Homo sapiens: one gene and its partner. The protein of the gene in region 1 purifies or fractionates together with the protein of each later gene. This does not show direct contact. Each region holds a gene or a part of one and is shown in the gene's direction. Other genes may lie near its edges.

What was found.
Region 2: the proteins of HELZ2 (region 1) and CRY1 purify together in Homo sapiens (co-immunoprecipitation; one large-scale study listed by IntAct). This does not show direct contact.

Annotation. Positions count from the first base shown.
Region 1 is NC_000020.11:63,567,442-63,571,256, reverse strand, and holds part of HELZ2 (3'-5' exoribonuclease HELZ2), read left to right. Parts: intron 1-388; coding exon 389-572; intron 573-645; coding exon 646-753; intron 754-1,591; coding exon 1,592-2,109; intron 2,110-2,257; coding exon 2,258-2,899; intron 2,900-3,502; exon of another isoform or gene 3,503-3,606; coding exon of another isoform or gene 3,607-3,629; coding exon 3,630-3,815. UniProt on the Homo sapiens protein: Can degrade highly structured RNAs through its concerted ATP-dependent RNA helicase and 3' to 5' exoribonuclease activities. Shows a strong preference for pyrimidine over purine residues for its nuclease activity.
Region 2 is NC_000012.12:106,995,897-106,999,711, reverse strand, and holds part of CRY1 (cryptochrome-1), read left to right. Parts: coding exon 1-161; intron 162-1,645; coding exon 1,646-1,797; intron 1,798-2,021; coding exon 2,022-2,224; intron 2,225-2,325; coding exon 2,326-2,418; intron 2,419-3,815.

The DNA of each region.
Region 1 (3,815 bases):
AGGAGCCCACCACAGGCAGAGCCAGAGGCTCCCAGGAGCTTGGAGCGGGGCAGGAGCCCACCGTAGGCAGAGCCAGAGGTTCCCAGGAGCTTGGAGCGGGGCAGGAGCCCACCGTAGGCAGAGCCAGAGGCTCCCAGGTTCAGTGGACGGGGGCCTCCCTGCCACCTGCTGAGGGCTAAAGCCATGTGGCCTCTGAGGACCCGGATAAGGGAGGTTCATGTTTGGGAACTGCTTGAGCCAGGCCTTGTCCCGGGAGCACAGGAGTGGGTGGGACGAATAAAGCCCCTGCTCCCTACAGAGGCCAGTATTGGGCTGAGGGGTCCCGGCCTTTGAACTCAGCACGGCGGCTGTGCCTCTGTGTAGCCCTGCTGACCTCCCTGTCCCCCAGGCCTGACCTCTGTGAGTATGGGGACGCCTGCACCAAGGCACACTCAGCACAGGAGCTGCAGGAGTGGGTCCGGCGCACGCAGGCTGTGGAGCTGCGGGGGCAGGCGGCCTGGCAGGACGGGCTGGTGCCCTACCAGGAGCGGCTGCTGGCCGAGTACCAGCGCAGCAGCAGTGAGGTCCTTGTGGTAAGTGGGCCCTGGGAGTGGGTGGGGTGGGGTGGGGTCCAGGCCTCTTGCTGAAGGCTAGACTTCCACGCAGCTGGCAGAGACCCTTGATGGAGTGCGTGTCACCTGCAACCAGCCCCTGATGTACCAGGCCCAGGAGAGGAAGACCCAGTACAGCTGGACGTTTGCCGTCCACTCTGAGGTGAGCGGAGAACAGCTCCGACTGGGCGGAGGGAGCCCTGGGGAAGTGGTGACTTCAGCCCGGGCAGACGTCAACAGCCTGGGTCATGGAGCTAATACCGAGGCACTGCCGCTCAGCACCTGCGTGACCTGCAGCAGGTCCCTTAGCCTCTCTGCCTCAGTCTCCTCACCTAGAGACAGGGGGCCAGGACAGTCCCACCTTGGCAGGGTTATTCTATGGAGTATATGGGTTAAAACAAGGATTTGGCCAGGTGCGGTGGTTCACGCCTGTAATCCCAGCACTTTGGGAGACCGAGGCAGGTGGATCACCTGAGGTCGGGAGTTCGAGATCAGCCTGGCCAATAGGGTGAAACTCCGTCTCTACTGAAAAAAAAAAAAAAAAAAAAAAATTAGCCAGGCATGGTGGTGGGTGCCTGTGATCCCATCTACTCGGGAGGCTGAGGCAGGAAAATCACTTGAACCCAGGAGGCGGAGGTTGTAGTGAGTTGAGATCGCGCCATTGCACTCCAGCCTGGCGACAAGAGTGAAACTCCGTCTCAAAAACCAAAACAAAAACAAGGATTCACCAGGGTCTGGCACCTGGAGAGTGGGTGGTGAGGCCTCAAGCTGCCCACACTGCCCCACGGGACATCCACAGGGGCCCCAGGAGGGTTCAGCCACCCCCATGTAGCACAGGAAGAAACTGAGGATGGCAGAGGCCGGGTGGCCTGCTTGCGTTCTATCCAGGAAGTGGCAGGGCCAGGACCTGAACCCTGCACTTGGGCTACGCTGGCCAGGCTGCCTCTCGGGAGGGTTGGGGGGAGCCCTGGGCCCCCCTCACCGTCTGGCCTCCTCTCCAGGAGCCCCTGCTACACGTGGCCCTGCTGAAGCAGGAGCCAGGAGCCGACTTCTCTCTGGTGGCTCCCGGCCTCCCGCCAGGCCGGCTCTACGCACGGGGTGAGCGCTTCCGTGTGCCCAGCTCCACTGCCGACTTCCAGGTGGGAGTGCGTGTGCAGGCTGCCTCGTTCGGCACCTTTGAGCAATGGGTGGTCTTCGACTTTGGCCGCCGGCCGGTGCTGCTACAAAAGCTGGGGCTGCAGCTGGGCCAGGGGCGTCGCCCAGGACCCTGCAGGAATCTGGCGCTCGGCCACCCTGAGGAGATGGAGCGCTGGCACACTGGCAACCGCCACGTGGTGCCTGGCGTGGAGCGGACGGCCGAGCAGACGGCCCTGATGGCCAAGTACAAGGGCCCTGCCCTGGCCCTGGAGTTCAACCGCAGCAGCGTGGCCTCGGGCCCCATCTCACCAACCAACTATCGGCAGAGGATGCACCAGTTTCTCTATGAGGAGGAGGCGGCTCAGCAGCAGCTGGTGGCCAAGTGAGCTGGGGGCAACAGGAGCAGCTGGGGTAGCAGGAGCAGCTGGGGCAATGGGAGCGGCTGGGGCAACGGGAGCGGATGGGGGCGTGGACTTGGCAGCGGGGCTGGCAGCTGTGGCCCCATGAGCTGACCCAGGCCATCCTGCCAGGCTGACCCTGCGGGGCCAGGTGTTCCTGAAGACGGCATTGCAGACGCCAGCGCTGAACATGCTCTTCGCGCCTCCGGGAGCACTGTACGCAGAGGTCCCCGTCCCCTCCTCCCTGATGCCAGACACAGACCAGGGCTTCCTGCTGGGCCGGGCGGTCAGCACAGCCCTGGTGGCCCCTGTACCTGCACCCGACAATACGGTGTTCGAGGTGCGGCTGGAGAGGCGGGCCAGCTCAGAGCAGGCGCTGTGGCTGCTGCTTCCGGCCCGCTGCTGCTTGGCCCTGGGGCTGCAGCCTGAGGCCCGCCTGGTCCTGGAGGTGCAGTTCCAGATTGACCCGATGACCTTCCGCCTCTGGCACCAGGCAGTGGACACACTGCCTGAGGAGCAGCTGGTGGTGCCCGACTTGCCCACCTGCGCCCTGCCCAGACCTTGGTCTGTCCCACCCTTGCGGCGTGGCAACCGCAAGCAGGAGCTGGCCGTGGCGCTCATCGCGGGCTGGGGCCCTGGGGATGGGAGGCGTGTCCCCCCGCTACTCATCTATGGCCCCTTTGGCACCGGCAAGACCTACACGCTGGCCATGGCCTCCCTGGAGGTCATCCGGAGGCCTGAAACCAAGGTGCTCATCTGCACACACACCAACAGGTAAGCCCGAGCCTGGCCTGCCCCCACCTCACCTGACGCCCGGCCCAAGTCTACACCGGGCAGGCGGTCACCCCCTGGATGTGCTCCAGTCCTCTGATTCTGCACTCCCTGTAGCCGACCAGCTTTGGGCTTTGGCTTTATCAGGCCCAGCTCAGGGCACCGAGGGTGGCCGGGTCTGCTGTCAGGTGAGGAGCTGGGTGCCTCTGCCGGGGCCCTGGCCCAAGGAGAGTGTCACGGGGAAGGCTGCAGCATGGCCCACCCAGGACTTCTGGGGATGAGTCTTGTTTTTCGTTTTTATAGAAACACAGATCTTTGTCCTAACCACAAGGTTCCCCTTTGGTTTATGTGGTTTCCTCTGGTTCCTGCCACCACCACCTCCCCAGGCCGGGGCCTTCCCATCCCTGCCCAGTGGGGAGTGGGAGGAAGAGCCTGGGACAGTGGCCATACGTCCCGGGCTGATTTCTGGATTGGGGGTTCTGGGGACCAGGGAGGTGCAGGTGTCTGCAGTGTCAGAGGAGCCGCTGGGCTCGCCCAGGTGTTGCCTGAAGCCCTCCGTGGCCTCTTGCCCCTTGGACTCCTGACAGGAGGGACACCAGTGTTTGCTGCTCACCTCTGACAGCCAGACAAGGGCTGTGCTCAGGGGCAGCTCGGCTGGGCACACAGTAGGTGCTTTAGCGGACAGCACTGAGGCCCCCAGCAAGAAGCCCATGAGCTCCTCCCCCTCCCGCAGTGCCGCCGACATCTACATCCGGGAGTATTTCCACAGCCACGTCAGCGGCGGCCACCCCGAGGCCACTCCTCTCCGTGTGATGTACACGGACCGGCCGCTGAGCCAGACGGACCCAGTCACGCTGCAGTACTGTTGCCTGACCGACGACCGCCAGGCTTTCCGCCCGCCCACACGGGCAGAGCTGGC
Region 2 (3,815 bases), on another chromosome or scaffold:
CTTTAGCCAAATGGGCGGAAGGCCGGACAGGCTTTCCATGGATTGATGCCATCATGACACAGCTTCGTCAGGAGGGTTGGATTCATCATCTAGCCAGGCATGCAGTTGCTTGCTTCCTGACACGAGGGGACCTGTGGATTAGTTGGGAAGAAGGAATGAAGGTAAGTGTTCTAACTGATATAGCATGCCTTATTTTGAAGGAATCCTTACCTTAATAAAACAAATCCTAGAAGTTGTCTGTTTATAGATTCATTTATGGTGTAGTTTTTCAGTGGATAAAACATTTAATTCCCCAAATACGGGGACACTTTCAGAGAAAAATGGTATAATCAGACAAGCAAAAAGGTGAAAACTGGTTAAATTGATTAACCTAAAGTCATTTTAATGGTTAAACCAGCCTAGCCACTAAGAGAACTGTAAAATTTAACACTGAATTTGTTGATAGATATATTTATAGGTGATATTTCTATCACGAAAAGAATTCACTAAAGAGTTCCTAGAGATAGTGAATTCATATTATAAATTTTAAAATATAAATCATTTCACCTCACTTCTCAGCTTTTTAGTAATACTTCTATTATGTAAAGAGAAGCATACTACATTTTGTGACGACATCTTGTGGATTACACGTAATAAGACTTAGGTACTTTTTTTTTTTTTTTTTTTTTGAGACGGAGTCTCTCACTCTGTAGCCCAGGCCGGGGTGCAATGACGTGATCTCAGCTCACTGCAACCTACGCCTTCCAGGTTCAAGTGATTCTCCTGCCTCAACCTCCCGAGTAGCTGGGATTACAGGTGCCCACCACTGTGCCCAGCTAATTTTGCATTTTTAGTAGAGAGAGGGTTTTACCATATTGCCCAGGCTGGTCTTGAACTCCTGACCTCAAATGATCCCCCTGCCTCAGCCTCCCAAAGTGCTGGGATTACACGCATGAGCCACCGTGCCCGGCCATTACGTACATTTTTTACCTTTCTGGCAATACCATACATTTGCCCCATCCAAGGACCATTTCTGAGCTTGTGTGTGTGTGTGTGTGTGTGTGTGTGTGTGTTTAATCTCTTATATTTCCTAGTACACCGTTGTATACAAAGACAATATATAACATACTTAATGAATATATATAAAAATCATTTATTTTAATTCTATTTTCTTTCTGATCAAGGAATTCGAAATTAAACTATGTAATGCTAGTATATATTTTTAAGTGAATTTATATTTGAGTATGCTTCCTTTATTTAGGCTAGAATATGAAGCTAAGTTTTTGTTGGTGTTTTATGTAATAGCATTTTTGCTTTCTTGAAAGTGGTTGACTGCTTTTCCTGTGTCTACTAATAATATCCTTTTAAATCCACATCCTTTTAAATCAGTGATTTGAATATTTTTTTTACCTTCCATTCTCCCAGTAACACTGCAGAGGTTGGAAAAGTAAATTCTCTTCAGAAGCATACTATATTACCACTATGTTTCTTTCTCTGGAAGAGCTCATTATAGAACAGAACATAGGGAAGCTAACTTTGGAATGTTTAATTTTACAATTCTGTGCTAGATTTTCTTTGCCTTGACTTTGGCTCTACTGTGACCTTGAAAATGCTTGCTTTGCGAATTATGTGTGTGCAAACTAATTGGTTACTGTTACTTCTGAAGGTATTTGAAGAATTATTGCTTGATGCAGATTGGAGCATAAATGCTGGAAGTTGGATGTGGCTGTCTTGTAGTTCCTTTTTTCAACAGTTTTTTCACTGCTATTGCCCTGTTGGTTTTGGTAGGAGAACAGATCCCAATGGAGACTATATCAGGTAAATCAAGGGTGATTACTACTCAGTTTGGAATAGTTAATTCAAGAAGAGCTTTTCATGTTTAATCAATGCTTAAAGTATTCCCCACTCATGATGGGCAGCAGAGATGAGAAGGGTAAACAGATCATTTAAATGGTCTTGATTTGATTTTGGTCTGTCATAGCTAGTAGTTATAGTTTGCTTAGAGTGCATTTTATTAGTAATCTTTCTTTTTTCTCCCAAAGGCGTTATTTGCCTGTCCTAAGAGGCTTCCCTGCAAAATATATCTATGATCCCTGGAATGCACCAGAAGGTATCCAAAAGGTAGCCAAATGTTTGATAGGAGTTAATTATCCTAAACCAATGGTGAACCATGCTGAGGCAAGCCGTTTGAATATCGAAAGGATGAAACAGATCTATCAGCAGCTTTCACGATATAGAGGACTAGGTATGTTAAGAACTGTCTTTGTTTCTTTGGCAGCTGTTTATGTACTTATCTTTGAATTTTATCTTGATCATAATTTAAAAGAAAATTTTTTTGTCCTTTAGGTCTTCTGGCATCAGTACCTTCTAATCCTAATGGGAATGGAGGCTTCATGGGATATTCTGCAGAAAATATCCCAGGTTGTAGCAGCAGTGGAAGTAAGTGAAAAGGAAATTTCTGCACTTAGTAACATGAAGAGGTTATTAAACAAATATATTTGTTATTGATCCTCACTAACATATTTTATAAAAATCTGTCTTTGAAATTAGCTTAATAGATTCTTTGTATGCATGCATACATGTGCACCCAGACACATCTCTTCACTCCATTGATGACATTTTAGAGATGGAAAATATCATTACGTATAATAGATACTGGGTCAAGTTAAAGCTCTTGCAAACTGAGGAGAGCAATTTTAAGGATAAAATGAAACTCAAATGTCATATTTTCAGAATGCTTATTATTTTTTACTCCTTAGGTGTATGGCAACTATAAGGTAATTAGTTAAGAAAGTCAGTGGCCCTGTGAACATGGCCAAAAGATTTATTGTACACATGCATAGAGCCCTCTAGTCTTTTTGCACATAAGTTTTTCTTATAAAGTCTGGTCTGTAGTAGTTTTCTGTATGATACAAATTTAGTGACCATGTAAATTCTTATGTGTGATATTAATAATTTCAGGAACTCAGTATGTGTTAGAAATTTGAACCATCATATTAGTTTTTGGCTTTGACCAAAAATAGCATGAAGCTCAGTAATTTGATTAAAAAATAGGACAGCATCAGTGAGAATGGTGATTATTAAAAAGTCAAGAAACAACAGATGCTGGTGAGGATGCAGAGAAAAAGGAAGGCTTTTACATTGTTGATGGGATTGTAAATTAGTTCAACCATTGTGGAAGAGAGTGTGGTGATTCCTCAAAGATCTAGAAGCAGGAATACCATTTGACTGAGCAATCCCATTACTGGGTATATACCCAAAGGAATATAAATCATTCTGTTATAAAGATACATGCACACGTATGTTCATTGCAGCACTATTCACATTAGCAAAGACGTGGAATCAACCTAAATGCCAGTCGATGATAGACTAGATAAAGAAAATGTGGTACATATGTACCATGAAATACTATGCAGCCATAAAAAGGAACGAGATCATGTTCTTTGCAGGGACATGATGGAGCTTGTAGCCATTATCCTCAGCAAACTAAGGCAGGAACAGAAAACCAAACACCTCATGTTCTTGCTTGTAAGTGGAAGTAGAATGATGAGAACACATGGATACATGCGGAGAACAACACATACTGGGGCCAGGTGCAGTAGCTCACACTTGTAATCCCAGCACTTTGGGAGGCCGAGGTGGGTGGATCACCTGAGGTTGGGAGTTTGAGACCAGCCCCTGACCAACATGGAGAAACCCCCGTCTCTACTAAAAAGACAAAATTGGCCGGGCGTGGTAGCGCATGCCTGTAATCCCAGCTACTTGGGAGGCTGAGGCAGGAGAATCACTTGAACCCAGGAGGCAGAGGTTGTGGTGAGCTGAGATCGCGCCATTGC